5 separate regions of the Homo sapiens genome follow, and regions 2, 3, 4 and 5 are each linked to region 1. The links come from fine-mapping of genetic effects on gene expression. A gene starts in region 1. Each other region holds a variant in brackets. All regions are shown on one strand. Distances are between the middles of the regions. Region 1 holds the start of ZNF418 (zinc finger protein 418). Region 2 overlaps LOC124904784 (a long non-coding RNA gene). Region 3 overlaps ZNF814 (zinc finger protein 814). Region 4 overlaps ZNF417 (zinc finger protein 417). Region 5 overlaps C19orf18 (chromosome 19 open reading frame 18).

Region 1 (6,651 bases):
CCCCAGGCCTCAGCCTTCTGTGGAGATGGGATCTTACGTATGTGCAACATCAACCACTTTCTTTTAAGAGATGGGGTGTTGCTAAGTTGCCCAGGCTGATCTCAAACTCCTGGCCTCAAGCAATCCTCCCACCTCAGCCTCCCAAAGTGCTGGGATTACAGCATGAGCCTTCAAGCCTGGCCAACAAAGTATTTTAATCCCCTTCTTTTCCTTCTACTGCTCTGAGTGGGATTCTCCCCTTAGGGTTATAGTGTTGGGGAAACAATTGACACCTGAGACTGTACATATGCCATCCACAGCAATTTCAAAATCAAATAACTCACAGCCTGGCAGAGAGGGCCACATGGGGGTTGCACTGTGGACAACAAATGGAAACCAGGGACAGTGTTATGCACACTTTGTAGGATGAAGAGGGTGTGATAGCCCCTGATTTCTCAGGAGGGTGCCACTGACTTGCTTAAATAATTCTGAGTAGAAATGGAATTGAAACCCAGTACAAAGTATAATAACCAGAAACTGTGCCTGATCCCTTAATGAAAAGGGTTGTTAGGCCAGGATACATTATCCAATAGAACAGAGTGGGAAGGGGATTTGTGCTCAGGCCATTTGAGGTCATACAGTATCACCACACACCAACGTTGCACATCACATTGGCCTTTCATTTTCGGCCTTATGCCACAATGTGGCTGACAGAATTCAGAGTATGCTTGGCAAATTCAAACAGGATCCAATATTACCACAGAATTCTCATGGCTCCCAATAGCAATGCAGTCCCAAGTCATTCTATGAAGGCCTTCTTGCATGGCTCCACATCCCCACAGAACCAGGTGGGGCTTTAGATATCCATGGCCCTATTCCACTTCTGTGTTGCACTTGGTGACCCCTCTACAATGACGACTTTCCTCTGTCCACCTAGAGTCATTTAAATCCCACTCCCTTGTTATGGAGAATGGTCTAAGAAAAGTGGAAAACAAAAGAAAAAAATAAATAAAATCCCAGCCCATCAGCTGTCCACCCCAGGCCCAATGTCTGTCACAGATAACCAAATTTACCCTGAGCATGTATCCACCAGGCCGAATGAAAACCCCCAAGCACCAACAAAGTTTTCTCAAAATCTTGGTGAGTCCACAGAGTGGTGAATAAGTACCAGCCTTGGCCCAAGTGTCATCTTCCTTCAATTATTTCTATGCTTCTGCTTACATCTCTTATCTATTCTACCCTTGGAAAGCCTATGCCCCCTGACAAACCATGTTGTCTGACATACCCTATCTTCATGAGCCCTTGCCTCCTTCTCCTGTGGCAATGTCAGCCAGGGACCCAAGCAAGAAATTCAGCCCTCAGCCTGCAACCACCCCTTCCTGGCCCCCACAAAAGATTTACCATGAAAATTTGAAGTGTGTCAATGTCATAATGGAGGCTAAACTATCTCAGACTCTTAACATGGTCAAAACAACATTCTTCACATCCCCAATGAATATTATACCTACTATGTGCTCATCTCAGTTGATGCAGCTTCCATCACTGCAGATGCTAAGACCAAAAACCTGGTGGTCATACCTGATTCCCCTTTCATGCCCTCACAGTCTATTAGAAAATCTAGTTACCGACCGGGCTTGGTGGCTCACGCCTGTAATCCCAGCACTTTGGGAGGCCGAGACGGGTAGATCACGAGGTCAGGAGATCAAGACCATCTGGCTAACACGGTGAAACCCCATCTCTACTAAAAATATTAAAAATTAGCCGGGCATGGCCGGGCTTGGTGGCTCATGCCTGTAATCCCAGCACTTTGGGAGGCCGAGGCCGATGGATCACGAGGTCAGGAGATTGAGACTATCCTGGCTAACACAGTGAAACCGTCTCTACTAAAAAATCCAAAAAATTAGCTGAGCATGGTGACGGGCGCCTGTAGTCCCAGCTACTCGGGAGGTTGAGGCAGGAGAATGGCGTGAACCCGGGAGGCAGAGCTTGCAATGAGCCAAGATCGTGCCACTGCACTCCAGCCTGGGCGATAGAGCGAGACTCCCGCTCAAAAAAAAAAGGAAAATCTAGTTGCCATTTTACAAACTGTGAATCTTGAATCCAGCCACAGCTCCTTACTCATTAATATGGTCCAGTAACCCTCACCTGCATTATGGCAGGAGTTTAAACTCTGATCCTCCTTCCTCCTCCCTCAAACACAGTGTGTTCTCTTCTTTGCAGCCAGATGATGCCTGCAGACAAATGGGACTGTGGTAACATCACCTCCTCGCCGCCCTCTTGCCTCCCCACCGAATTTTTACCTCTAAGCATTTCATGACCTGGTACCAACTCTGTAGTTAACCTTCAAAGTATGTTTACATGGGTTGACAGAAATGGGAATACCTCCATACATCCTGTGTCATGGACTTAGGATTCTGGGTTTAGGGTTTCTCCAGTGTTCTCAGATCAAAGGACTGAAAAAATGGCAAGTAAGAGTCCCAGGACATCACAAGCTAGAGAACATGTGAATGGGGAATAAGGCCAGTGAGGGAATGGAACACCCTCTAATTCCCTCTGTGGGTTCCTTTTTTTGAGCCAGAGTTTCGCTCTTGTTGCCCAGGCCGGAGTGCAATGGCTCACCGCAACCTCTGCCTCCCGAGTTCAAGCAATTCTCCTGCCTTAGCCTCTGAGTAGCTGGGATTACAGTCATGCGGCATCACCACGCCTGGCTAATTTTGTATTTTTGTTAGAGACGGGGTTTCTCCATGTTGGTCAGGCTGGTCTCGAACTCCCGACCTCAGGTGATCCGCCCGCCTCGGCCTCCCAAAGTGCTGGGATTACAGGTGGGAGCCACCTTGCCCGACCCCCTCAGTGGGTTCTTTACGTGCTTTTGTAGCCAGGAGTGTCTGAGGGGAAAGCAGACGTTACAAAGGGGATCTGATAAGCTCAGGTCTCCTTGAACCTTTTCTTATCGCTGGAGCCAGGTGACCTCAGACTGGTTGACCTGCGTGTCTCAGTGCAAAATGTCATCTCTACCACCTATGTGATCTATCAACAAAGGAGTCAACCTCCCAGAACCCTAAGGTCCTCATCTCCTCTACTATGTTCTTCCTTTGGCCTTTGGGAAACCTTAAAAGCCTGGACTTGGATCGCATCCCTCCTTTCTTCGAAACTCTCCATGGCTTCTAGCGTCTTCACAGCGAATACACAGCCCCCAGCCTGCTCTTCCAGGAGAAGCTTCGCCTCACACGTTGTTCCCTACAGGCGCCTGTGGACCCCAGGTTCCATCCTCCCGGGTCTGTCCTCCAGGCCATAGCCCGCGCCGGTCCCTGTGCCTGTCGCTCTCCCCACCGCATCCCACAGGTGTCAGAAACAAGGACCTCTCCCGCGAACGCCTCAGTGTCCCGACGCCGGGTCCGGGCTGCAGACCTGTGAACAGTCGCCGCTCTCTCGCTGCTTCAGGATTCGGGTTAGGATGAGGTGACCTGAGGGCAGGGAAGGCACAATTACCTGAGCCGGGAGCCTCAGCGCGGCCGCCGCCATCCCGAGTACGCGGGGAAAGCACTGCCGGGAGCGGCGGGCGCCGTTACGGGGCCTAAGATCTGCCTCTGTGCAGCAAGAAGGACTCTTCACCTTCTGGGTTCAGACACCGCGGTTCGGACCCATAGCTCCAGCGCCTCTCACCTCACAAACCGCAGAAACACACCCAACATTAACCAAAATGGTCGCTACCAGAGAACGCTGAGAATCCCGCCACTACGTTACGTGCGCACACAGAAACGCCTTTATTCTGAGCCCTTACTGGTTCTGTTGCGCTGTCATTCAATGTAGAGCTTTCTGGGTAATGTAGTTCCCCAGGTTCCAAGGTAGTAAAGCTGCCGCTTCCCAAAGGCGCTTCTGCAGGGAAGTCCCAGCCCTACCTCAGGGGGTTCATTAAAGCGCGTACCCTTTTAGGGCAGAGGATGGTCTCGCCCCTCCTTAGAGGCCATATTGAGATTCCTGGGGAATCCCTGTTTGTAACTGACCACCTAAGTGTTTGCAAAAATATTAATTCACATTTCTGTAAATTCAAGCTCCCAGGCGCTAAAAATACTGTGAAGGCCCCCAAAGGCTACAAATCCAAATTCGTGTATCACTTTATACAATCGTTTAGACACAGAATGCTTGCACTGGAAGCAGAGGCTGATAAACATTACTCTGTTATAATTCACATGAATGCACTCTTGTTACCGGATAGAATGTCTTGGCTGTGAGTTGTCCAGTTGTTGGCGCATTGAACAAAGAAGTGAACAAAACACACAAAAAAAGCAACGAAAGAACGGACCAATGAAAGCGCAGATTTATTGAGGGGAAAGTACACTCCACAGAAGTGGAATGTAGGTGTGGGAGCAGGCGACCAAGCGGCTCAAGAACCCCGATTACAATGTTTTTTAGGGTTTTATTAGGTTGGTGCAAAAGTAATTGCGGTTTTTGCCATGAATAAGCTAGAATTTTATAATACCCCAAGAGTTCTTTAAAGGCCTCCAATCCTATGAAGGACTGGTGCACAACCAATCAGAGGCTGAAGTGGAGACTTCTGTCTTGTTACCACAGGAGTGAGGACGTGGCCTGTGTGCTGCCTCATCTTGCCTAGAACTAGCTGCACCTGCTGTTCTTTTGCTTATGCCTTCATTCTTGGTTACCCTAATTCCCTATTCTCCTGCCTCACTCTGAGGCATTAGAGTTGGTTTTTCAGTCTGCCAGGGACAAAAGAGAACTAATCCAGATAGGACCATGCCAAGGAAGATAGAGGAGAGGCTAAAGAAAGAGTACAAAGGTCAATCAGTCGTTCCCATGGAAAAACAACTCTCCTGCTTATATAGTCAATTATTGTGTCCAATTCATTCAGCAAAACATTTATTCATGTAATATCCCTTACTTGGTATTCTAACTTATATTTTCAACTCATTTTAGGAACTTGAAGTCAGTCTCAGGTAAAGAACAATGAAAGAGAAATCTCAGCTTGGTATTGGTAATGGTGGTGATAATCTCCACCTGGAGACACTAGGCGTATGTTAAATTATCGAGCTTGTTATCTTTCCTGGGAAGTGATTATCATTTGTTTCTCTTGTGACAGCGGGGAGTGTTCTGCATGAGGAACTAATATGATACCAGAAAAACAGGTGAAATGCCAGTTACAGAAACTTATTACCAACGACTATCTAATAACTGCGATGACAGAAATAGGTCAATTGAAACATGAGTGGATGGTGAAAAAAATTTACACTTCACAGAAGTTTTTCTTTCTTTTTTTTTTTTTTTTTTTTTGAGACAAAGTCTCGTTCTGTCCCAGACTGGAGTGCAGTGGCGCCATCTTGGCTCACTGCAACCTCCACCTCCCGGGTTCAAGCGATTCTCCTGCCTCAGTCTCCCAAGTAGCTGGGATAACAGATGCCTGCCACCACGCCCAGCTAATTTTTGTATTTTTAGTAGAGACAAGGTTTCACCATGTTGGCCAGACTGGTCTCAAACTCTTGACCTCTGACCTGCCTGCCTCCTTCTCCCACAATGCTGACATTACAGGCATAAGTCACTGCTCCCAGCTGACTTTACAGGTGTTTGTTTGTTTGTTTGTTTGTTTTGAGAAGGAGTTTCACTCTTGTTGTCCAGGCTGGAGTACAATGGCACAGTTTCAGCTCACTGCAACCTCCTCCTCCTGGGTCAAGCAATTCATTCTCCTGCCTCAGCCTCCCAAGTAGCTGGGATTACAGGTGCCTGCCACCACACTCAGCTAATTTTTGTATTTTCAGTAGACACAAGGTTTCACCATTTTGGCCAGGCTGGCCGCAAACTCCTCACCTCAGGTGATCCACCCGAGGTGGCCTCCCAAAGTGCTGGGACTACAGGTGTGAGCCACCTCGCCCGGCCCAGAAGTTTTAACAGTGATGTCTACGAAGAGATGGAATTAAGGTCAGCATGTGATTAAAAATGTCCCCCTTGTTGGTTTTGTCATTGAGATTTTTTTTTCTTTATTAAAAACATTGAACAATACCAAGGTGGAGAAAAATTGTGCCTGTTCACCTACCTACTTGGGAGGCTTAGAGGGAGGATCACTTCTGCAAAGGAGTTTGAGGCCAGCCTGGGCAGCAGAGCAAGACTCTGTCTCCAAATAAATAATTTAATGAATAAGTAAAAACAGAAGGTGAAATCTGCAGTATAGTATTATCCTCATAGAATTGTGTCTCCCTTTCTTCATTATTCTGTGTGTCAATTATGTTACAAGTTTTTCATCTTATAGGAAAAAAGTCATAGATTCTATACACATCTGTACTTTTTCTCACTTAGCAATATGGTTTGAACAATGAAAAGCTTCTTTTTCACTTCACATTTGAAATCTGCTTATCTCCACATTCTATTTTTTTCTCCCCTTTTTGAGACAGCGTCTCACTCTGTTGCCAAGGCTGAAGCGCAGTGGCATGATCAAGGCTCAACTGCAGTCTCAACCTCTCAGGCTCAAGTGATCCTCCCATCTCAGCATTCAGGAGTAATTGGGACTATAGGCATGCACCACCACAACCAGCTAATTTTTGAGAGATGTGGTTTTGCCATGTTGCCCAGGCTGGTATCAAACTCCTGAGTTCAAGCAATCCTCCTGCCTCGGCCTCCCTAAGTGCTGGCATTATAGGATTCGGCCACTACACCTGGCCTATTCAT
Region 2 (6,651 bases), 240 kb after region 1:
GCCACTGTGCCCAGCCAACTTTTGTATTTTTAGTAGAGACGGGGTTTCATCATGTTGGCCAGGCTGGTCTCAAACTCCTGGCTTCAGGTGATCTGCCTGCCTCGGCCTCCCAAAGTGCTGGGATTACAAGCATGAGCCACTGCGCCCGGCCTGCTGGCATGTTTTGACTTGTGACTGCACAGCTCCAGTCTCTGCCTCCACGGTCACATCACCTTCTCCTTTTCTGCCTATGTGTGGTCACATCTGTCCCTGCCTCCCTCTTGTAAAGATACATGTGATTACATGCACAATCCAGGATCATCTCCCCTCTCAAGATCTTTAAATACATATGCAGCCCCTGTCTCTACATAACGCAACATTCATAGGTTCCAAGAATTCAGGCCTGACATCTTTGGGGGACATTTTTCAGCCAAACACACTCTCCTAACTTTTAATCAAAGTCCTGGGCTTCACTCTCCGTCCATGTTCATTGCTTTGACACTTGTCATGGACAGGAGGGTGCCTTGCACTGACTGGCTTGGACCAGAGTGCTTGCATGCCCCTGGATTAATCACTGCAGCAACGGAGACAGAATGAGGCCAGTGGGCCATCCACTGGAGCTGAGATTGAGGGGCAGCTTCACCCATAGCTGCCCAAAAGGGTATCTGGGGTGTTCTGAGGGTGTTCTGGGGTGTATCTGAGGAAAGGGATGAGTGGAAAGGTCTCACAAATGAATCTTTTTTTTTCTTTTTTTTTGAGATGGCGTTTCACTCTTTTTTGATGGGCATTGCCCAGGCTAGAGTGCAATGGCGCGATCTCAGCTCACCACAACCTCTGCCTCCCGGGTTCAAGTGATTCTCCTGCTCAGCCTCTCCAGTAGCTGGGATTACAGTCATGTGCCACCACGCCTGGCTAATTTTGTATTTTTAGTAGAGATGGGGTTTCTCCACGTTGGTCAGGCTGGTCTGAAACTCCCGACCTCAGGTGATTTGCCCACCTCAGCCTCCAAAAGTGCTGGGATTACAGACGTGAGCCACCGCGCAGCCTCACGTGAAAAAGACTTTTCTCTCAATTTCACAATCTGTCTCTCTGTCTCTCTCTCTCTGTCACGTTTTGAAATTCTGGCTTCCCTCCTATACCCAAGGGAGAGCTCACACTTCTCCCTTACCTGAGCGAAATGCCATCTTTCCCTTCCAGCACCCCATTCAATCCTCCACCAGGGTCCCCATGTCCTGGTAGCTGCTCCCTGGATGTTGGGACTTCACTCAGTTCCATTTTTTTTTTTTTTTAGGAGACAGGGTCTCACTCTGTTGCCCAGGCTGGAGTGCAGTGGCCTGATCATAACTCACTGCAGCCTTAATCTCCCGGGCTCGAGAAATCCTCGCACCTAAGACTCCTGAGTAGTTGGGATTACAGGCACATGTCACCATGCCCAGCTAATTTTTAAATTTTTTTGGTAGAGATGGAGTCTCACTATGTTGCCCAGGCTGGTCTTTAACTCCTGGCCTCAAGTGATCCTCCTGCCTCAGCCTCCTAAAGTGCTGGGATTGCAGGCATGAGCTGTTGACCCTCAGTTCCAGATCTTTGCTGGCAGCAAGTCCGGAAACTTCCATCCGGATCTGGTTTGTGGCCTTATAACTTAATGTGAGGAGAGGTCTCTGGGGTAGATGGGCTCCACCCAAGCAGACTTTTGTGCCAGCTACTGTGGCTGTGCCACCCACCTTCATTGCAGCACAGTCTGGCGCCTTCTACAGATGCCAAAAAAACCAGTTACACTCTTTTCCAGCTTTTCTCCCAGCCAGGACATGGATGCATGTGTCAATCCTGGCTAACAGGGTCAGAGCGAGTCAACAACAGAGAAGTCTTCCGAAAATGTTGTATTACTTTTTTTTTTTTTTTTTTTTTGAGACAAAGTCTCACTCTGTTGCCCAGGCTGGAGTGCAGTGTCGCGATCTCGGCTCACTGCAACCTCCATCTCCCAGGTTCAAGCGATTCTTCTGCCTCAGCCTCCTGTGTAGCTCGGACTACAGGCGCGCACCACCACACCCGGCTAATTTTTTGTATTTTTAGTAGAGAAGGGGTTTCACCGTGTTGACCAGGCTGTTCTCGAATGCCTGACCTCGTGATCTGCCCGCCTCAGCCTCCCAAAGTGCTGGGATTACAGGCGTGAGCCACTGCGTCCGGCCAAAATGTTGTATTACTTCTTTGTGGTAGGGAGAGTAATGCCCCCTTTCCTTCAGAGATGTCCTCATTCCAAACCCTGGAACCTATACATATGTTACCTTCGCATGGCAAAGGGGACATTGAAGATGCCATTAAGGATCTGTTTTTGTTTTAGAGACAGGGTCTCACTCTGTCACCCAGGCTGGAGTGCAGTGGTGTGATCATGGCTCACTGTAGCCTGGAACTCCTGGGCTCAAGCGATCCTCCTGCCTCAGCTTCCTGAGTAGCTGGGACCACAGATGCATGCCACCACACCCAGCTATTTTTGTTGTTGTTAAGACACGGTCTTGCTCTGTTGCCCAGACCAGTCTCAAACTCCTTGGCTCAAGCAATCTTCCTGCCTCAGCCTCCCGAAGTGTTGGGATTACAGGTATGAGCCACCATGCCTGGCCAGATTCTTGAGATGGGGAGATTATTCTGAATTACTTGGGGCGGGCCCTATTTAATCAAATGTCTTTGTATAACTTGAGGCAGGAATCAGAGTAGATGATGTGATGATGGAATGAGAGATTTGAAAATGCTACACTGCTGGCTTTAAAATTGGAGGAAGGGGCCATAAGCCAAGGAAGGCAGGTAGTCTCTAGAAACTGGAAAAGGCAAAGAAATGGATTCTCTCCTAGACCCCCCAGAAGGACCACAGTCCTGCTGACATCTTTATTTTAGCCTAGTAAGACCCATTTTGGACTTCTGACCTCCAGAGCTGTGAGACAATAAATTTGTTGTTGTTTTAAGACACAAAGTTTTGGTAATTTGCTACAGTGGCAATAGAAAGCAAATACACTTCCTGATGCCA[A/G]CTTCTTCAGCCAAATGTTGCACGGCTAAATGCTAGACTTGGAACTGTAATCACCATCTTAGGACTGCAAAGACGTGTGCCTCAGAAAGAACCAAGGCCATACACTGGGGAGGGCTGAGCCAAAGGAGGGACAGTGACTGGTTACAGCTCATACTTGAGCCCAGGGGTCAACCGTAGAAGCCCTTACATCTGGATTTAATTACATTTTTTATTTTGTAATTTTTAGTTTTATTTGTGCTGAGACAGAGTCTCTGGAGTGTAGTGGTGCGACTACAGCCTCAACTTCCCAGGCTCAGGCGAACCTCCCACCTCAGCCTCCCGAGTACCTGGATTACAGGTGTACACCACCACACGCAACTAGTGTTTTGTTTTCGTAGGGATGGAATCTCACACAAAAAACTGGGCAAGTATGTTCCCCAGGCTGGTTTTGAACTCCTGGGCTCAAGCAGTCCTCCCACCTTGGTCTCACAGTGTTGGGATTACAGGCATGAGCCACTGTGCCCAGCCTGGACTTAATGAAAAACAAACAAACAAACATTTTTTTTGAGTCAGTCTTGCTTTCTCACCCAGGCTGGAGTGCAGTGGTGTAATCTCAGCTCACTACAACCTCTGCCTCCTGGGTTCAATTAATTCTTATGCCTCAGCCTCCCAAGAAGCTGGGATTACAGGCATGCATCATCACACCTGGCTAATTTTTGTATTTTTAGTAGAGAAAGGTTTTTACCATATCAGCCAGGCTGGTCTTGAACTCCTGACCTCAAGCAGTCCACCCACCTCAGCCTCCCAAAGTGCTGGGATTACAGATGTGAGCCACTGTGCCCAGTCAGTGAAATTTAAGATCATGAATGGTGGCATACTGTCACTTCTGCCAAAACTACACCTTACATGATAACCCTTTCTTGCTCCCCACCAGCTTTTGCTCTCAAGTCTCGTTTGGTCATGCTAAGCCACAGTTTGGGGACTCCTAGGAGCAGCCATCACAGGTAACCAGTTCTGCTGGCTCAGGATGGCCCCTGCTGCCCTGACTCAGAGACACTTCCTGCAAGGCAGACATCTCATGCAGAGCAGAGGCCACTGCAGTCAGAAGGAAGGGCCTGGTAGCCTCAGAGGCACAGCCAAGGGGCTGCAACGATGGAAAGGAGATATTCCACAAGTCCAAGAGTGTGACATGGAAGCACACTCTGGGATGTGGTGGACTCAAGTGATCCATGCAGATGTGGATGCTGTCTCTCTTTCTCTGTTCATAGAGTGTGGCATGGGTCCTCTCTGGGTGAAAATAGGTGCCCAGAATTAATCACACACTTCCATTCAAAATAAACTGTGCCAACTTGCTGAACCACAAAATGATTTCCTCGCCATGGCCCCTAAATAACTCCGTGATAAGAACTGTATGCTATTGATGGCTCTGAAGTCCAAATTTATTGGCAAAAGCAAAGAACATGCCTGAACTAGTCATTTCTGCAGGCGTTTCTCCTTAAGATGAGTTTGAAGCCAATTGGTTATGTGAAGAATAGCAATCAGTTCTTTCTCACACTGGAGGAGGAGGAAGCACAAAAGAAAGTTCAAGGGTCAAGCCTCCCAAAAGGCTCTGTTATAATCCTATGTGCTCTTTCATTGTATCTAGTGATGAATTTGGGTAACTGACACTTTACTCATTGGCCATCTATCCTTGAACTTGATAAGCATTTTCATTTATGTAAGTTTACTTGTAATTCTTCCAAAACTTATCTTCACATTTCCCAACAAACTAATTTCAGACATTTTGTTTTTATGATTCTATTGTGACAGGAACCTCCATTTCAATATACTTGTTGCAGGTATAGATTTTGTGCATTGCTTTGTGGTGTTGATTTGTCCATCTTTTGTATTCTGCCTAGCTTATTGTAATCTTGATTTTTAAAGTTTTCAATTGGGTTTTTAAAGTATGTTAATGTTAATAAATGCATTTTTAGGTTTCCTTTCCCAATCATTACAGCACTCAGGTCTATTTCATATCAGATTGATTGATTTATTAAGACAAGGTCAAGCTCTGTCGCCCAGGCTGGAGTGCAGTGGCATAATCAGGGCTCACTGCAGCTTCAACTTCCTTAGCTCATGATCCTCCTACTTCAGCCTCTTGTGTAGCTAAGACTACAGGAGTGTGTCACCACATCCAGCTACATTTTTTGCTTTAATACAGATGAGGTTTTGCTACGTTGCTCAGGCTGGTCTTGAACTCCTGAGCTCAAGTGACCCTCCCGCCTTGGCCTCCCAAAGTGCTGGGATTATAGGTATGAGCCTGGCCTCATACTTTATTTGTAGTAACAAGAATATCTGGAAAATGTTCAGCATTGCTGAGAGCAGATTTCTGTCATTTTCGATGTGTGTATCCTCCACGGTTATTGAATGGAGGAATAAACAAGAAAAAGACTCAAGAAGAGAGACAGGAGTCAGTTCTCATCAGAGAAGAAAAGGTCGATTTCCTAAGGCAGGAAATATTGAGATGGGTTGTGTTCAGGACTAGCAGGAGGTGTGTGGCTGGCTTGTTCCTTGTCTACATCCTAATGGCCTAAAGAAAAGATGCCCCACACTAAGGACAGCAAGAGGGAAAGAGTGAGCCTCATCCTCCGTGACTTCAGTGGGCAGCTTAACCAGCACCAGAAAAGACCTATACTTGCAGATTTTCTTTGTGGGAAAACGGCGTTGGTTATTTGGGTTTTTATTTATTTCCAACCAAACATGCCTTAACGGATACAGGGTGCAAAGGCATGTACTAGATTATTCCAAACCTGCCTCACTGGTTTGTCCGGCATTCTGTGGACTTCCTGCATTCCTCTTTGAGGCAGGCCGTTTTCTGGAGGTTGTTTGTGATCGGCCTCTGCTCAGAGCCCAAATTCTTAGCCTTTCCCCCATGTGTTATGTCCAGTGTGGATTATCTTGATGGTGAGTTTACCTTTGATGTTGGGGAAAACAGGCAAAGAATGAATGAGCAGCAGTAACCAAAGAGCCTCTTTTCTGGGAAAAAAGCTATGATATTAATAATTTATAGTTCAAATGCACATTAATTTATCCATACTTCTGTAACCTTACATTCCCAAGCTCTCAGAAGTTCAGAGAGGTGTCCTCAAAGCTCACATTTCAAAGATGGAAAGACACATCTTTCTTCTTTTTAAAAATGATTTTAAAATGTATCCCCCTTTACATGGAACAATTTGAGATGCTCTGTGTGATGAAACAGAGACAGAGAATGATGAGTGGAGATCAAATCCTGGGTCCATGATTCAGTTGCACAGCTGGCTTAGGACTCAGTTGAACACCACTAGCTGCCATAATGGTCCAGCTGCCATAATGGTTTGGGCCAACTTATAGCTTTACATATTTTATTCTTAGTCATATGTTGTTTATTTATTATTTATTTATTCATTTATTTATTTTGAGATGGAGTCTCGCTGTGTCACCCAGGCTGGAAGGCAGTGGCACAAACTCGGCTCACTGAAAGCTCCACCTCCTGGGATCATGCCATTCTCCTGTCTCAGCCTCCCGAGTAGCGGGGACTACAGGCGCCCGCCACCATGCTCGGCTAATTTTTGTATTTTTAGTAGAGACGGGGTTTCACCATGTTAGCCAGGATGGTCTCGATCTCCTGACCTCATGATCTGCCCACCTTGGCCTCCCAA
Region 3 (5,325 bases), 64 kb before region 1:
GAGGTGGAGGTTGCAGTGAGCCGAGATCTCGCTATTGCACTCCAGCCTGGGCAACAAGAGTGAAACTCTGCCTCAAAAAAAAATAAAATAAAATAAAAATAAAAATAAGGAAGTACCTGCAAGAAAGCTACTCAAAGTAGGTCACCAGCCAGGAGCTCTGACCCAGGCTGCCCAGCCTATCCTTGTGTTGTCTTTTTAATTTTCCCTTAGATGGTCTGCCCTTTCCGTGATTTCTGTGTAGAACTCTGTATCTTGAGCTGTGGTACTATTTTTCTTTTGTCTTTTAATTTAAACCTTGGTGGAGCCCTTGTGATGAATATTAAATACATACATTTTGGGCTGGGTGTGGTGCCTCTAGCCTATAATCCCAGCACTTTGGGAGGCCGAGGCAGGCGAATCGTGAGGTCAGGAGATCGAGACCATCCTGCCTAACACGGTGAAACCTCGTCTCTACTAAAAATACAAAAAAATTAGCCGGGCGTGGTGGCGGGTGCCTATAGTCCCAGCTGCTCGGGAGGCTGAGGCAGGAGAATGGCATGAACCCGGGAGGTGGAGCTTGCAGTGAGCTGAGATTGCACCACTGCACTCCAGGCTGGGCACAGAGCAAGACTCCATCTCAAAAAAAAAAAAAAAAAAAAGACAAAAAGAAAACATTTTGGTCATTAAAAAACAAAAAAAAAATGATACGAGAGAGCACCCAGGGATTATAAGAGGAAACACTTTATTACATCACTCATCTAACATTCCAGAAAATGGAAAGTACTCTACTGTACAGCAAAGTAAATCATTGGTTGTCTGGAGAACAGAAAGAAAGCCTTTATAAAAAGGTTCCAAGTAAATATAAAGGTGTTAAGTTCATTATTGTGACTATGTTAATGGTTTCATGGGATTATATGAAACTCAAGATTTATCACATGCTACAGCTTAAATATGCATAGCTTACTGAATGTCATTTATAACTCATCACAGCTTTAAAATATACTTCAGACTGGCAGCAGTGGCTCACACCTGTATTCCCACCACTCTGGGAGGCTGAGGCAGGCATATCACCTGAGGTCAGGAGTCCAAGATCAGCCTGGCCAACATGGCAAAACTCCGTCTCTACTAAAAATACAAAACTTGGCCGGGCATGGTGGCACATGCTTCCAGTCCCACCTACATGGGAGGCTGAGCCAGGAGAATTGCTTGAACCTAGGAGGTAGAGGTTGCAATGAGCCAAGGTCATGCCACTGCACTCCAGCCTGGCTGACAGTGAGACTCTGTCTCAAAAAAAAAAAAAAAAGGTTGGGCACGGTGGCTCATGCCTATAATCCCAGCACTTTGGGAGGCCAAGGCAGGCGGATCACGAGGTCAGGAGATCGAGACCATCCTAGTTAACATGGTGAAACCCCATCTCTAGTAAAGATACAAAAAATTAGCTGGGTATGGTGGCGGGCACCTGTAGTCCCAGCTACTTGGGAGGCTGAGGCAGAAGAATGGTGTGAACCCAGGAGGCAGAGCTTGCAGTGAGCCGAGATCGTGCCACTGCACTCCATCCAGCCTGGGCAACAGAGCAAGACTCCGTCTCAAAATAAATAATAATAATAATTAAAAAAATGCAGTTCAAAAGAAAAATATAGATTTACCATTATTTTTGGAAAACAGGTTTGGCAACTCTATACTGACTACACCAATTCTTCTCATGCCCTAAGTGGGAAAACTAGCCTCCACGGTAGCAAATATTGATGTGGCACTAAGGCCATTTCCACCTGATTAAGTGGCTGGCTGGTCACAAAGGCCACATCACTGAACTGAGATCTCCCTTCTCCCTATCATCTTCCTCCTGTTAATGCAGGAATGACCTTGAGGAGAACAGCCCAGAATGAGTACAGGAATTCACAAAACCTTTAGATTATTTCCTCTGACAATGGCCTCAACAATACAATATTCATCATTATGGAAGTCCTGATAATTCCTGTATCTGCATATTCATCATATACGTAGTGACTGGATCATTGTGGATGCCCTTTTAAAAGACATGCATTACGCTGCACGTGGTGGCTCACCTGTAATCCCAGGACTTTGGGAGGCTGAGGCCAGCAGATCACAAGGTCAGGAGTTCGAGACCAGCCTGGCCAACATGGTGAAACCCCATCTCTACTAAAAATACAAAAATTAGCTGGGTGTGGTGGCATGTGCCTGTAGTCCCAGCTACTCAGGAGGCTGAGGCAGGAGAATCGTTTGAACCTGGGAGGCAGAGGTTGCCGTGAGCCAAGATTATGCCACTGCACTCCAGCCTGGGCAACAGGGTGAGGCTCTGCCTCAAAAAAAAA[G/GA]AAAAAAAAAGAAAAAAAAGACATGAGTTGCAGTTACATTATTCTGTCTCCTCCACTGCCTATAAATAAAGTAATTCTATAAAATTATAATTTCACCTGATAGCATTACAATCTGTGATGTTATCCTACAGAATTCTGGATATCAGGGCATGTGTCTGCATTGCAAGAGCTGGGCAACAGACTTCCCTCAGCCGTACCAAGTACAATGCAATATACCTCGTAAAAGAATTTTGTCTTGTTCAAAAAATGCCAGAAATTGTCACAAAAAATGCCCTGTATCCAGCTGACCTATGAACCCACAAATTTTAGTATCCGTGCTACAGATAAAGACCACAAAGCCCTGAAGGTCTTCTCTGGAGGCCTCTGGCAGCTATGCAAAGCAGTCCACAAGTGGAGAAAGCTACATTCTGCATTCATACTGTTCCATGAGCCACAAAGTTTAGCTATGCCAACAAAAGCTGTGACCCCCTTCATAGTAACAGGACCTACTTATTTCTGAACCACCCATACAGTGACAACAACCCTCAAGATTGAAGAAGGCTGAAACAATAAGGCCTTCATAATAGCACAAACCGGAGAAATGGGAGGCAAGCTGTTCTTAGGATCATGACTTGGAGGGTAGAAAATTTGTCAAGATTGATGTGATACCCACAAGATCTCTGAAAGACATAGTCCGTCTTTTCAAGTCAACGTAAGAGGCCTCTGGGATAAAAATGGGTAACGTCCATGGCATGACTTATCAGACAGAAAAAAATGACAAAGGAAGAAGTGCTGAAGCTACTCAACAAATCCTTCTGTGACTCGATCAGAAATTAAAAGTTAAAAAAAAAAAAAAAAAAGGCCAGGCACAGTAACTCACACCTGTAATCCCAGCATGTTTGGAGGCCAAGGTGGAAGGATCGCTTGAGCCAGGAGTTTAAGACCAGCCTGGGCAACATGGTGAGACCCTGTCTCTCCAAAACTTAAAAAAATTAGTGGAGCATGGTAGTGCATGCCTGTGGTTTCAGCTACTCAGGAGGCCGAGGCAACAGAATCACTTAAGCCCAGATCAAGGGTGCAGTGAAATGTGAACACACCACTGCACGCCATCCTGAGCGACACAGTGACAACCTGTCTCAAAAAAAATCTAGCAAGGTACCTGGGTATAGTGAAAAATGCACTGTAGCTGCCACACACTTGGAACTTTTGCAGATGCTCAATAAATGACATTCAATCTAGGTAGGTGGCACTCTCAAAGGGTTACATTGAAAAAGAAATAACATTCCATATACATCTATGGTGTTTTTCTCATGTCAATGTTTGAGGCTCCAATAAAAAGGCTGAAGGCTTTCTTGCATTCATTACATTCAAAAGGCATTTCTGCAGTGGGAAGTCTCCTGTGTGTTATGAAGCTAGATTTCTACATAAATATCTCACATGTCACACTGGTAAGGCCCTGATCCAGTGTTAACTCTGATCTTGAAGGAGCAAAGAGGTGTGGCTACAAAATTGCCCAAATGTATTTTATTTGTCTAGTGTGAACTCTCTGATATTCAAGGAGAAAAGACCTTCAGGTAACTTTTTTCCCACATTTGCTGCAATCACAAGACCTTACTCCAGTGTGAACTCTCCTGTGTTTAATGAGACTGAAAGTTTCAGCAAAGGATTTCCCACATTCACTGCACTCATAAGGTGGTGTGACCAGTGTGAACTCTCTTATGAACACAGAATGCAGAGCTGTGGGTAGATGACTTCCCACAATCACTGCATTCATATGGCCTTTCTCCAGTGTGAACTCTCTGGTGTGCAATGAGGTGGTCCTTCTTGCTAAAAACTTTCTGACAATCCTCACACTCATATGGCTTTTCTCCAGTGTGAACTCTGGTGTACAAGGAGGTGAGACTTCTTGTTAAATAATTTCCCACATTTCTCACATTTATAAGGCTTTTCTCCAGTGTGAACTCTCTTGTGTTTAGTGAGACTGGAGCTTTCAGCAAAAGATTTTCCACATTCACTGCACTCATAAGGCTTTTCTCCAGTGTGAACTCTTTTGTGTTTTGTGAAACTGGAGCTTTCAGCGAAAGATTTTCCACATTCACTGCACTCATAAGGCTTTTCTCCAGTGTGAATTCGCTTATGAACACAGAATGTAGAGCTGTGGGTAAATGATTTTCCACAATCATTGCATTCATAAGGCCTTTCTCCAGTGTGAACTCTCTGATGTGCAATGAGTTGGTACTTGTTTCTAAAAAATTTCTGACAAGCTTCACAAGCATATGGCTTTTCTCCATTGTGAATTCTCTGGTGTACAAGGAGGTGAGACTTCTTCTTAAATAATTTTCCACATTCCCTACATACATAAGGTCTTTCTCCAGTATGGCCATGCTGGTGTAGAATGAGGTTACCCTTGTGACTAAAACATTTCCCACATTCCCCACACTTAAAAGGTCTTTCTGTAGTGTGAACTCGCTGATGATTCCTAAGGTGTCCTTTTTCATTAAAAGATTTCCCACAGTCTCCACACTTGTAAGGTCTTTCTCCAGTGTGCATGCGCTGATGGTGAACAAGGCTGCGCTTATGACTAAAAGATTTCCCACATTCTCCACACTCATAAGGCCTCTCTCCAGTATGAACGCGCTGATGGCTCCTAAGGTGCCCGATTGAACTAAAAGATTTCCCACATTCTCCACACCCATAAGATCTTTCTCTAGGGTGAACTCGCTGATGTAGAATGAGGGTGCCTTTATGACTAAAAGATTTCCCACACTCTCCACACTCATAAAGTCTGTCCCCAGTGTGAATTTGCTGATGGTTCCTAAGATGTCCTTTTGAACTAAATGATTTCCCACATTCTCCACACTCATAAGGTCTTGCTCCAGTGTGAACTCGCTGGTGTAGAACGAGGTTGCCCTTTTGACTGAAAGATTTCCCACATTCTCCACACTGATAAGGTCTTTCTCCACTGTGAACTCGCTGATGGTGAACAAGGCTGCGCTTATGACTGAAAGATTTCACACATTCTCCACACTTGAAA
Region 4 (6,651 bases), 27 kb before region 1:
TTGTGGTGAGCCAAGATTGTGCCATTGCACTCCAGCCTGGGCAACAAGAGTGAAACTCCGTCTCAAAAAAAAAAAAAAAAAAAAAAGCCCAGCCATCATGAAGAATCCTCGAATGTTCTCTGAAGAAAATGATGCTGGGGGCTGGGTGCAGTGGCTCATGCCTATAATCCCAGCACTTTGGGAGGCCGAGGCATGTGGATCACCTGAGGTCAGGAGTTCAAGTCCAGCCTGACCAACAGGGTGAAACCCTGTCACTACTAAAAATATAAAAAAGTAGCCAGGTGTGGTGGCGGGTGCCTGTAATCCCAGCTACTCTGGAGGTTGAGGCAGGAGAATCATTGGAACCTGGGAGGCGGAGGTTGCAGTAAGCCAAGATTTCACCATTGCACTCCAGCCTGGGCAGTAAGAGTGAAACTGCGTCTCACACTTGATCTTAGCCAAAAGGCTGAGAAGCACTGAACCAAAGCCACTGCGCCCGGCTGGGAAAGTTCTTCTTTACAGATTTATAGTTCTTCTTTATAGATTCTTTCTTGCTAAGTGTTGAAAAGATAACTATAATCATCTAAAGAGGATTAATTCATCACTTAGGCAAAGTAGAGGTTAGCAAGAGGAAGTTACTTCTCTTAGAGTATGTGATTCAAAGGAAAAAATTGCTACATCAAATACACACCGACTGGCTAAACATTTCTAGGTACGTATCAATTTCTATGCCACTTTCAGATTCAACACAATGAGGAAATTACTGGTGTAATAAAAATAACAAACATTAGATTGATGAAGCACGGTAAAATAATTTCAAACAGGAAAGATGTATGAATCTTTTGTACAAAAAAATTTCAACATATAAGTTGCATACAAGCAGGAAGATTTAACTTCATAAGAGAATTAACAAAAGTTGTATTAATTCAAGACAAGAGCCTGCAGAGACTAAAATTGCTTAGTACTGAAAGTTTTGCCTATATAAACTGTAGTTTATGAAGAAAAAAGTTTTGTTTTTTTTGAGGCAGGGCCTTGCTCTTTTGCCCAGGCTAGAGTGCAGTGGTACCATCTCAGCTGATTGCAACCTCCATTTCCGAGGAAGGCTCCTTAATTTCCCAATTATAAAGGTTTTGTGGGAACATAATTGGGTGTAATAAAATAAAAATTTACACCACAAGAGACAGACACATACTCTTCAGGGTGTATGGTCATAATTTGTTTGAACGAGCCCTTTTAAACTTCTAGATATCATTGAAACTCCTATGTTGATTAAAAATCATCAAAGATCTTTCCAGTGAGAAGGATGAAAAATATTACTGAGAATGAAGTATCACTATTTCATGTATGTGCCTGTATGTGCTTATATAACATGCTGTAATACAAGGTGACATTTAGGGGCTGAGACTGTTAACATCTGACTGTACCTTGCTATTTGTAACTTACAATCTTATTCACATTTCTCAAGTGCCATGCCTTTAGGTGCCTATACATCATGCTATCATAGGATTTCTAGGGATAAGCCGAGTGCCGTGGCAGATGCCTGTAATCCCAGCACTTTAGGAGGCTGAGGGGGGTGGATCATGAGGTCACAAGTTTGAGACCAGCCTGGCTAACGTAGTGAAAGCCCATCTCTACTAAAAATACAAAAATTAGGTGGGCGTGGTGGAGGGAACCTATAGGCCCAGCTACTTGGGAGGCTGAGGCAAGAGAATCACTTGAACCTGGGAGGCGGAGGTTGCAGTGAGCCGAGACCATGCCATTGCACTTCAGCCTGGGTGACAGAGTGAGACTCTGTCTCAAAAAAAAAAAAAAAAAAAAATTTAGGGATAATATCTAAGCCCATATAACCTGCTGTTATAAAAGGTAACATTTAGGGATTGAGATTTTTTTTTTTTTTTTTTTTTTTTTTTGAGACGGAGTCTCGCTCTGTCACCAGGCTGGAGTGCAGTGGTGCAATCTCGGCTCACTGCAACCTATGCCTCCCAGGTTTAACGAATTCTCCTGCCTCAGCCTCCCAAGCAGCTGGGACTACAGGCACCCACCACTATGCTTGGGTAATTTTTGTATTTTTAGTAGAGACAGGGTTTCACCATATTGTCCAGGGTGGTCTTGAACTCCTGACCTTGTAAGCCACCCACCTCAGCCTCCCAAAGTGCTGGGATTACAGGCCTGAGCCAAAACACCCAGCTGAGATTCTTCATATAGCTGATTATCTTGCCATTTCTAACTTACAAGCTTTATCCACATTTCTTAACCTTTTGTTTCACTAAATGGGACAGGAAGTTTTAACTCTTGTATCCATGAAGCATCTTAGTAAAATAACAGATATTCCATTTGCAAATTATGCTCCCCAAAAAACACAAACACATATGTAAAAAATGTTATAAAGACATTAAGTGTCCACTCAATAACTTTGATTCAAACTATCTTCATGTTCTTCACTTCACAAGATAAAGCTCTTAAAATGGACTTTGTGAGGTTCCATGTGTTTGGTCAGTCATGAGAGGAAGAATAATTCAGAGTGAGAGGAAACAAGAGAGATTCTAGGCAGCCCTCAGGGAAGCTGAGGAGGTGGCTCCCTGCCTCCGGGTCCCTCAGAATGTCCCATCTCCCTGTCAGTATCAGTGTCCCAGATAATCTTCTTCTGACTGGGACATTTCCCAATTTGGGAACAGTGGTTACTTGCCAAATTCACATTTACGGCCAAAACTGTGGCTACAGTGTCGACATTCATGCAAGTGGGGAAATGGGCATGTGGCCCCTGAAAAAAGATTCTGGATTCCATAATCTCACCTTGCTGGCAAGAAACTACCATTTCAGCAGAAAGTGCAATGACAGTGTCTGCACAG[G/A]GACTGGAGATTATCTCCAGAAAAGAGCTTGGAGTGAGGAAATTAGTTAATGTGGATGAATGACGTTACCCATGGAGAATGAAGTAAGTAGCTAGAAGACAAAAGCCTCAGAACACATAAATCTCAACGGGTACTGAGTAGAGGACTCGGAGCTCTGAGGTAATTGGAGCTCATGGCTATCCCAGAACTTGGATAACATAAAGTTCTTGTTTCTACAAAGTGTGTATCCTTTCCATATGTGAGAACTCTGAGGAAATACAAACTTGGAACAAAAGAAATAGTAAGGTAATCTTAGAAAGATGTTGAATAGAAAGCAAGCTACGGTGACATCTTAACTGTTTCACTGCCCAGCAATCTATACGTATTGTCACTTGGGGACACTTATGATTCCACATGAAGTGGATAACCAGCTCATAGCTCTTGTGGTACTGAAAACCAAGTATTTGGCCGGGCATGGTGTGGTGTACTCGTAATCTCAGCTCCTTGGGAGGCTGAGGTAGGAGAATCACTTGAACCTGGGAGGCCCAAGTTGCAGTGAGCCAAGATTGCACCACTGCACTCCAGCCTGGGTGACAGAATGAGACTCCGTTCCAATGCGAAGTCTCTTAAGACCAAGGAGAGCAGACATTCTGATGTTTCCCAGATTGACAGCACTCATAAGGCCTTTCTCCAGTATGAACTCTCCTGTGTTTAATGAGACGGGATGTTTCAGCAAACGATTTCCCATATTCACTGCACTCATAAGGCCTTTCTCCTGTGTGAACTCTGATGATGAAGGAGGGTAGAGCTTCGCTGAAATGTTTTTCCACATTTGGTACATTCATAAGGCCTTTCTCCAGTGTGAATTCTCCTGTGTTTAATGAGACTGGAACATTCAGCAAAGGATTTTCCACATTCACTGCACTTATAAGGCTTTTGTCCAGAATGAACTCTTTTATGAACATGAAGCGCAGAGCTGGAAAGAAATGATTTCCCACATTCATTGCATTCATACGGCCTTTCTCCAGTGTGAATCCTCTGATGTATAGTCACGCAGTTCTTATTACCAAATAATTTCCCACATACCTCACACGCATATGGCCTTTCTCCAGTGTGAACTCTCTCATGAACGAGAAGATGATACTTCCTGTTAAATAATTTCCCACATTCCCTACAATTGTAAGGTCTTTCCCCAGTGTGAAGTCTCTGGTGTTCAGTGAGGTGGGATCTGTACCTAAATGATTTCCCACATTCCTTGCACTCATAGGGCCTTTCTCCAGTATGACCTCGCTGATGTTGAACGAGGTTGCCCTTTTGACCAAAAGATTTTCCACATTCTCCACACTTGTAAGGCCTTTCTCCAGTGTGAACACGCTGATGGTTAATAAAGCAGAACTTCTGACGAAAAGATTTCCCACATTCCCCACAGTGATAAGCTCTCTCTCCAGTGTGACCTTGCTGATGTTGAATGAGGTTACCCTTTTGACCAAAAGATTTCCCATATTCTCTACACTCATAAGGCCTTTCTCCAGTGTGAACACGCTGATGGCTAATAAGGCTGCCCTTCTGACTAAAAGATTTCCCGCACTCCTCACAGGGATAAGCTGTCTTTCCAGTGTGGACTCGCTGATGTTGAATAAGGCTGCTCTTTCGACTATAAGATTTCCCACACTCTCCACAATCATAAGGTCCTTTTGCAGTGTGATCTCGCTGATGATTACTGAAGCTGACATATCTGCTAAAGGATTTTCCACAATCACTGCACACATAACATCCATCTCTAGTGAAAAGTTTCTGGTGTGGAATAACTGAGTGTTTGGTGCTGAAGGCTTTTGTGCGTTTTCCACAACTGTAATTAGTTTTTCCCTCCTGAAAGGGTGGGCCATGCATAGTTTCACTGTCTGTCTTCTCTACAGCAGCTGCTTCTTGGCACAATCCTGAACTGGGCAGAACGTCCTTCCCAAACTCGCGGAAGACAAATGGCTCCTGTGACACCCTGAGCTTACGTTTCTTTACAAACGATGCTTCTCTGACACTCTTTCTGTAGAATTTCTCTCCAATATGCTGCTTCTGGTGCTGATGAAGGTATGCAGTGTCATCCAAGTTTTTTCCACATGCTCCACTCCTGTTCAGCTTCTGCTTGTGATGAGTTTCCTGGTGGTCAGCAAAGTGAAAAACATCCTCCAAGATGAGGCCACACATTTCACAGGGGTGAGCCTTCTTAGGAGAAACACCTGCCCTAGGAGTCCTGCTCTGAGACTCTCTTTGTACAGAAATTCTCTGCTTACAAGGTGCCTCCTCATCTTTTGATCCACACCAACAACCTGAGAGCAAGAAAATGCTGGTCAAGTGCAAAGTACCTCTGACGGGAAGGCACAGCCCACCCACAAGTACGTCTCACAAATTGAGGAATTAATCTATAGAAATATTTGCAGGAACACAATGTTGGCTTCAAGTTGAAGATGGGGCTGCTGGCCGGGCGCAGTGGCTCACGCCTGTAATCCCAGCACTTTGGGAGGCTGAGGCGGGTGGATCACCTGAGGTCAGAAGTTCGAGACCAGCGTGACCAACATGGTGAAAACCCATCTCTACTAAAAATACAAAAATTAGCTGGATGTGGTGGTGAGCGCCTGTAATCCCAGCCACTCGGGAGGCTGAGGCAGGAGAATCATTTGAACCCGGGAGGTGGAGGTTTGCATTGAGCCATGATCGCACCACTGCACTGCAGCCTGGATAACAGAGCGAGACTCCATCTCAAAATAATAATAATAATAATAAAAAGAAGAATGAGCTGCCTAGCATTACTGGGCTATAAAGGTCACAGAATCCAGGAGGCCTCATGATGTAAAGAGCACAAGCATACAGGCAACACAGGGAGTAGAGGCAGGGTCCACAGCTCCTTCCTCTAAACACAAGTTGTGTACGGGACCTTATCTCCTAATGACATGTGAGTGCTATGTAGAAGCATATGGACTGGGCGCGGTGGCTCATGCCTGTAATCCCAGCACTTTGCAAGGGTGAGGCAAGTGGATAACCTGAGTTCAGTAGTTGGAGACGAGCCTGGCTAACACGGTGAAACCCTGTGTCTACTAAAAAAAGAAAAAATTAGCTAGGTGTGGTGGTGCAGGCCTGTAATCCCAGCTACTTGGGCGGCTGAGGCAGGAAAATCACTTCAACCTGGGAAGCAGAGGTTGCAATGAGCCAAGATTGTGCCATTGCACTCCAGCTTGGGCAACAAGAGCGAAACTCCATCTCAAAAAATATAAATATAGAAGCATATGTCAAGACCAAGAAAACATGAGTACAACACAGCAGAGGGTGGTCATGGATGGTTTAACATAGGGCATACACTTCCTAATATGTAATCGATACACCAATATCAGAGACAAGTGCAGATGAAAGCACAAGAAAAATGGGTGAGATGTGAGTATTAGTGCTGGGGTGGATATCACAGTAGAAGTGAAAAGGTACAGAACTAACACGTGTGAAACTCTCAACAATGGGGAGAAAAAGACAAATAGTGTGTGCCTACTCATATTGCCACAAAAACACTTGGCAAATATAAATGGTTTCTGGTATGATTTGGATAAACCCCTGAAGTCATGCCCTCCCCCAGCATGGCACTCCTGAGGGACAGGCTCCCTTTGAGCCTATCGTGATGAGCCTGAATTGAACCACATCTTGTCAAACATGGAGGTCTCTCCATCTCACACCCAGTACATAGGACCCGACGATGTAACTATGAAGGGAGAGACAGCAGAGATGAACAGCCAACACTAGCTCAGGACAACTAAGCACCTGACAGCCCACAGGAGAGTAAGGTAAGTATTACAAAAGAATTCCT
Region 5 (6,651 bases), 29 kb after region 1:
AGATCATGCCACTGCACTCCAGCCTGGGCAACAGAGCAAGACTCCGCCTCAAAAAAAAAAAAAAAAAAAAGAACTTCTACAAAATCAGTTTTAAATAATCAATTTCATCCTCTTCTCACAAGGACAGCAGAACATGTCTGTGGTGGGCATGGCATGCTGGGAAATTTTACCCTGGGGTAGTGACCTCTATTTTGTGGGTCTGGATCCCATTTTCACGTCAGATGGAGACAGATGGTGCAGGTGAAACATCTGCGTGTCTGTGTTCTGAATGCAGGATAACATCACGGTAATGAGTATGTTTAACGGAAACATGTTTTGTGCTGGGAAAAGTTTGTTTCCTGAACTCTGTTAGATCCGTGGAATTGCCCTGCAAAAGGAACTGAGCAACCCCACAGCTGTTCACCCCTCTGTAAGATTTGATGAGAAAGGTTCATTTCCGTAAGTGTGGCTGTGAATATTTGTCTCTCTTACTTCAAACTCCCTTAACTCCCACTTATCTTTGCCTTTGAAAACCAAGCCACAGGCCAGGCGCGGTGGCTCACGCCTGTAATCCCAGCACTTTGGGAGGCCGAGGCGGGCGGATCACGAGGTCAGGAGATCGAGACCATCCTGGCACCCGAGCGTTGGTGGTATAGTGGTGAGCATAGCTGCCTTCCGAGACCATCCTGGCTAAAATGGTGAAACCCCGTCTCTACTAAAAATACAAAAAATTAGCCGGGCATGGTGGCGGGCGCCTGTACTCCCAGCTACTCGGGAGGCTGAGGCAGGAGAATGGCGTGAATCTGGGAGGCGGAGCTTGCAGTGAGCAGAGATCGCGCCACTGCACTCCAGCCTGGGCTACAGAGTAAGAGTCCGTCTTAAAAAAAAAATGAAAGAAAGAAAGGAAGGAAGAAAGAAAGAAAGGAAAGAAAGAAAGAAAAGAAATGCAAGCCACCGCTGAGAAAGAAAGAAAAGAAACGCAAGCTGCCGCTGCCAGCTTGGCTTTCCTGCGAATAGCTCTTACAGGTCACACTACCTGAGTGGATGAACTTTTCCAGCTCATTTTCGTTCTCTGGAAGTAGGTGCGTGGACTCACCCTCGTCCTCTGAGCCCTCTTCTTCATCTCCTAATAACGGTATCCTGAGGTTCTTATAAAGTGACTCGAGCTGTTGTCTTTCCTCAGCCTGTGCCAGTCGACTGGAGAATGATATAAATGAATTTAGAAGCACAGTTTTCATGATGAATAATTCATTTCTCAACCATGCCACTTTTTGACAGGAAAGGAGTCGCTTGTGGAGTGGGTGCAGACATAAGACTTTGAAACCAGACTAATCATGGTCAGCTCTCAACTGTCTACATGGTCAGGCCATTTCCTGGAGTAAGGAGTAACTCCGATCATCCCAAAGCATGGATCAAAGCCAGGACTAGACGTGAACAAGGCACTCACATTGGGTTCCAAACTTAAGGTGTTGACAAAAAATCCATAATCAAACAAATCATCTTTCTTTCCATTCCTTTCTCTTCTCTTTTTCTTTCTCTTTTTTTTCCTTTTTCTTTCTTCTTTCCTCTCTTTCCTTCCTCCCTCCCTTCTTTTCTTTCCTTTTTCTTTCCCTTTCTCTCTCTCTCTCCCTTTCTCTTTCCCTTTCTCTCTCTGTATCTCTCCCTTTCTCTTTCTCTCTCTCTTTCTCTCTTTGGAACAGGGTCTCATTCTGTCACCCAGGCTAGAAGTGAACTGATACAATCATGGTTCACTGCAGCTGCCAACTCCTGGGTTCAAACAGTCTTACCTGCTCAGCCTCCTAAGTAGCTGGGACCACAGGCTCGTGGCACCATGCCCGGCTAATTATTTTTGTATTTTTTTTTTTAGAAATTGCGTCTTGCTATGTTGCCCAGGATGGTCTCAAACTCCTAGGCTCAAGCTGTCTTTCCTCCTTGGCCTCCCAAAACACTGGAATTACAGGTGTGAGCCACTGTGCCCGGCCATAATCATGTTTCAGTGTAATATTTTACAAAATAAAAATTAATGTCAAGAAATCCGTGATGAACAAAATAGGACAGAATGGGTGTTACTGATTTTTCTACCTCACTGTAGGTCCAATCCTGGAAGTGGATCACTGAACAGCTATTTCTGTTTGGTGTGGAAATGGATGACAGTGTTTTCCTAACATACTTACCTTCCCAGTACTGTGTGAATTATATATTAAAAAAATACTTTTAGGGGCCAGGCGCGGTGGCTCACGCCAGTAATCCCAGCACTTTGGTAGGCCGAGGCGGGCAGATTACCTGAGGTCAGGAGTTGGAGGCCAGCCTGACCAACATGGAGAAACCCCGTCTGTACTAAAAAAATACAAAATTAGCAGGGCGTGGTGGCACATGCTTGTAATCCCAGCTACTTGGGAGGCTGAGGCAGGAGAATCACTTGAACCTGGGAGGCGGAGGTTGCAATGAGCTGAGATGGTGCCATTGCACTCCAGCCTGGCCAACAAGAGTGAAACTCCATCTCAAAAAAAAAAACAAAAAACTTTTAGGGTTAGTTTATTTTTTGTTTTTCTTGCTCAAAAGGCTGGGACAGGAGCAAGATTTGAGTGACAAAAGGGAGGTGCTCGCCTCAGTGCGAAATGTAAGGAGGTACCCCAAACAGTGAAAAATGAAGATGAGTATTTTAACTCAATTTTTTTTTTTTTTTTTGCAGATGGAGTTTCACTCTTTTTGCCCAGGCTGGAGTGCAATGGCGCGATCTTGGCTCACCACAACCTCCACCTCCCAGGTTCAAGTGATTCTCCTGTCTCAGCCTCCCGAGTAGCTGGGATTACAGGCATGTGCCACCATGCCTGGCTAATTTTTTTGTATTTTTAGTACAGATGGGGTTTCTCCATGTTGGTCAGGCTGGTCTCGAACTCCCAACCTCAGGTGACCCGCCCACCTCGGCCTCCCAAAGTGCTGGGATTACAGGCGTGAGCCACCGCGCCCGGTCCTTAACTCAGTATTTTTAAAAATTGAAATGAAGCAAAAAAAACAAAATCCAGGATATACCAAATATCAAGATTGTAAACAGAGATAGGATCCAAACAGTGCTGTGCTAAACCACAGGGGAGCTTGAGTCAAAAGGAAAGGTGTGAGTCCCTATACACGTTTTAATGTATTTTTAAATGCTTATTCTTTTCCAAAACACTTAAGAAGTTCAGAATATATTTAATAATTGAAAACTGGTGTATGAAAAGTCACAACATTAAGTTTAAATATTTTATCTAGGCCAAGCACAGTGGCTCACGCCTGTAATCCCAGCACTTTGGGAGTCCGAGGCGGGCGGATCACGAGGTCAGGAGATTGAGACCATCCTGGGTAACATGGTGAAACCCCGTCTCTAATAAAAATACAAAAAAAAATTAGCCGGGCGTGGTGGCGGGTGCCTGTAGTCCCAGCTACTTGGGAGGCTGAGGCAGGAGAATGGCGTGAACCTGGGAGGCGGGGCTTGCAGTGAGCTGAGATGACGCCACTGCACTCCAGCCTGGGCAACAGAGCAAGACTCCGTCTCTAAAAAAATAAAAATAAAAATAAATATTTTATCTCTACCCTAAACAAAATTAATTGTAATTTTACTTTCCTGGTTTAAATAAAAGCAAACTTACCAATAGTATTTTCAAAATCTACTTCTGGAAAAAATGAACCACTAAAAATTACATAAAACTTGTACTTTTGAACAGGTGGTTTTGTTTTTTTTGTTTGTT[T/C]TCGTTTTGGTTTTGGTTTTGGCCCCAGGCTCCACTATAGCTTAGTGCTAATACAAATGTGAAAACAATAAGAATTGACTAGCTCAGCAACTCAATTCAACACTGAGTGTCCAGGAGATATGTTTTACTGAGTTGCATTACAAAACTTTATATTTATTAATAGTTTTGTTATAATAATGAAATATACAGAAGCTACAGTTACATAATTTTTGTTTTTGAGACATGGTCTCACTCTGTCGCCCAGGAGGAAGTGCAGTGGTGCAATCTCAGCTCACTACAACTTCCACCTCCAGGGCTCAAGCCATCCTCCCACCTCAGCCTCTTGAGTAGCTGGGACTACAGGTGCGTGCTACCACACCTGGCTAATTTTTGTATTTTTTGTATAGACGCGGTTTCACCATGTTGCCCACGCTGGTCTCAAACACCTGAGCTTAAGGGATCCACCCGCCTCGGCCTCCCAAAGTGTTGGGATCACAAGTGTGAGCCAATGCCCCCGGCCTATACATTTACATAAATTAAGCGGATGTAGTGGAGATAACCCACAACCAAGCACGCAGGTTACGCTCTCATTAGCAAAATTCCCCTTTTACCTTTAATGTCACTTTGCCTTCATGTGACCTACTCCAAGGTGGTCTTAACATAGCTGCCTCAGAAAATATCTCACACATGGCAATATATCTTGTTTTCACACTTAATTCAACGAAGCAAGCAATTTTGTACTTCTCAAGCTGTTTCTGGTGGGATACAATGGAATCCTAGCACGGAATCATACAGTAGGAGTCAGAATCTGTTGGTTTGGTCAGAACCGCATGAGATCACAGTGTGTCTCACCTTTTTCTACCGTGAATTTCAAAATGATTACATCACTCAAAACAGCTTGACCCCAAGCTTTATTTGCGAAGACGGTGATGTAACTTCCCCCAAAGCTGCTATCACCCCAGACTGCACTGACACATTTCTAGTGAAAGGGAGAGTGGTCGCTCTTTTCTGCTGTGCACTATTGAGATTCCTTCCAGAGTAGCAAGTTCTTTTTATTTTATTTATTTATTTATTTATTTATTTATTATTTGCGACAGAGTTTTGCTCTTGTCGCCCAGGCTGAATTGCAATGGCGTGATCTCTGCCCACTGCAACCTCTGCCTCCCAGGTTCAAGCAATTTTCCTGCCCCAGCCTCCCAAGTAGCTGGGATTACAGGTGCCCACCACTACGCCCAGCTAATTTTTGTATTTTTAGCAGAGACGGGGTTTCACTATATTGGCCAGGCTAGTCTTGAACTCCTGACCTCAGGTGATGTACCCGCCTCAGCCTCCCAGAGTGCTGGGATTACAGGCATGAGCCACCACACCCGGCCTCAAGTTTATTTTAAAATACCAAATTCTGGGGTCTGGGAATGGTGGCTCACACCTTTAATCCCAGCACTGGGAGGCCAAGGTAGGCGGATCACCTGAGGTCTGGAGTTCGAGACCAGCCTGACCAACATGGAGAAACCCCATCACTACTAAAAATACAAAATTAGCCTGGCATGGTGGCGTATGCCTGCAGTAATCCCAGCTACTTGGGAGGCTGAGGCAGGAGAATTGCTTGAACCCAGGAGGCAGAGGTTGCAGTGAACCAAGATCCATACCATTACACTCTAGCCTGGGCAACAAGAGCGAAACTCCGTCCCCTCCCCTCCAAAAAAAGTAGAAAAAATAAAATAAAATAAAATACTGAATTTTGGGAGGATGCTAGCATCTCAAACTGTGTCTTTCAAGCATTTTTGATCATGACTCCCAGTAAGAAATATATTTTATTTCACAACCGTGTGTCTGTGTGTGTGTGCATGTCTCACATGTATCTGAAAAGTTTAAAAATCAGCCTTTTACATTAATACTTTAAGTAATATTTTCTTTTCTTTTTCTTTTTTTTTTTTTCAGACGAGTCTCACTCTGTCACTCAGGCTGGAGTGCAGTGGCACGATCTCGGCTCACTGCAAGCTCCGCCTCCCGGGTTCACACCATTCTCCTGCCTCAGCCTCCCGAGGAGCCGGGACTACAGGCACCCGCCACCACGCCCGGCTAATTTTTTGTATTTTTAGTAGATACGGGGTTTCACCGTGTTAGCCAGGATGGTCTCGATCTCCTGACCTCATGATCCACCCGCCTCGGCCTTCCAAAGTGCTGGGATTACAAGCGTGAGCCACCATGCCCGGCGTAATATTTTCTAATATTTTCTATTCTGCTGAATTGTATTCTGTCCTGTGTCTTTCTTTCTTTTTTTTTCATGTGTATCATGCCTCAACATGAGTACAATCCACATGTTGAAAAACACTAATCTGGAAATTTATAATGACCAATACTTTAGCAATTATAAGATGTATCATCATCATCCTTTGACATTAAATAATAATCAGTTGACTTGTTATGTCTCATTTAAGGACAGCAGATATTACTTAGCAGATACTTACTATATCATATAGGAGATTGCCATCCCACATATCAGGGCAATGCTGAAGGCTACGCTCGAAATTAAAATTACTTTAACAAGAGCAGGTCTATGCCGAATTATTGCTAAAAAGAAAGAAAAGAAAAGAAGTGCTCAAAAATGTTCATTTTAGCTATGTCTTTCAGTTAATATATTTGTCCTTACAGAGGGGAATGGAAGTCAAAACCAGAAACACTTTCAAAAATAGCTTGTTTTGTTTTTTTTTGTTTTGTTTTCTTTTTTGACACTGAGTCTCGCTCTATCACCCAGGCTGGAGTGCAGTGCATGATCACAGCTCACCGCAACTTTCGCCTCCCGGGTCCGAGCAATTCTCCTGCCTCAGCCTCCCAAGTAGCTGGCACTACAGGCATGCGCCACCACACCTGCCTAATTTTTTTGTGTTTTTGTAGAGATGGGATTTTGCCACGTTGCTCAGGCTAGGACTCTTAATTTTAGAAAATACTGAAGTTAGATTTTCAG

Evidence for each region. PIP is the estimated chance that this variant, and not a neighbour inherited with it, causes the effect. A credible set is the group of variants that fine-mapping cannot tell apart.
Region 2: its variant is the best candidate, but not a certain one, in a credible set for the expression of ZNF418 in whole blood (INTERVAL, PIP 0.73).
Region 3: its variant is the best candidate, but not a certain one, in a credible set for the expression of ZNF418 in whole blood (TOPMed, PIP 0.70).
Region 4: its variant is the best candidate, but not a certain one, in a credible set for the expression of ZNF418 in whole blood (INTERVAL, PIP 0.60).
Region 5: its variant is the best candidate, but not a certain one, in a credible set for the expression of ZNF418 in whole blood (TOPMed, PIP 0.89).

The regions. Positions count from the first base shown.
Region 1 is chr19:57,931,693-57,938,343 of GRCh38, forward strand. ZNF418 (zinc finger protein 418) reads right to left here and starts at 3,710. Exons shown (of 6, transcript NM_133460.3): 1 at 3,469-3,710; 2 at 2,125-2,210. The coding sequence starts at 2,130. RefSeq lists enhancers at 3,113-3,995, 3,588-3,677.
Region 2 is chr19:58,172,629-58,179,279 of GRCh38, forward strand. It overlaps LOC124904784 (a long non-coding RNA gene), which reads left to right. Exons shown (of 2, transcript XR_007067360.1): 2 at 3,909-4,961. Among named protein-coding and RNA genes, the nearest start is that of ZNF274, 7.1 kb to the right of the region's middle. The variant A/G (reference allele first, on the strand shown) is at 2,996.
Region 3 is chr19:57,868,677-57,874,001 of GRCh38, forward strand. It overlaps ZNF814 (zinc finger protein 814), which reads right to left. Exons shown (of 3, transcript NM_001144989.2): 3 at 705-5,325. The coding sequence ends at 4,146. It also overlaps the pseudogene UBE2CP5. Among named protein-coding and RNA genes, the nearest start is that of ZNF814, 18 kb to the right of the region's middle. The variant G/GA (reference allele first, on the strand shown) is at 2,313.
Region 4 is chr19:57,904,984-57,911,634 of GRCh38, forward strand. ZNF417 (zinc finger protein 417) reads right to left here. Exons shown (of 3, transcript NM_152475.3): 3 at 791-5,131. The coding sequence ends at 3,567. It also overlaps a transcript of ZNF814 not described here. Among named protein-coding and RNA genes, the nearest start is that of ZNF417, 8.3 kb to the right of the region's middle. The variant G/A (reference allele first, on the strand shown) is at 2,829.
Region 5 is chr19:57,960,376-57,967,026 of GRCh38, forward strand. C19orf18 (chromosome 19 open reading frame 18) reads right to left here. Exons shown (of 6, transcript NM_152474.5): 4 at 6,155-6,257; 5 at 1,016-1,176. Among named protein-coding and RNA genes, the nearest start is that of C19orf18, 11 kb to the right of the region's middle. The variant T/C (reference allele first, on the strand shown) is at 3,708.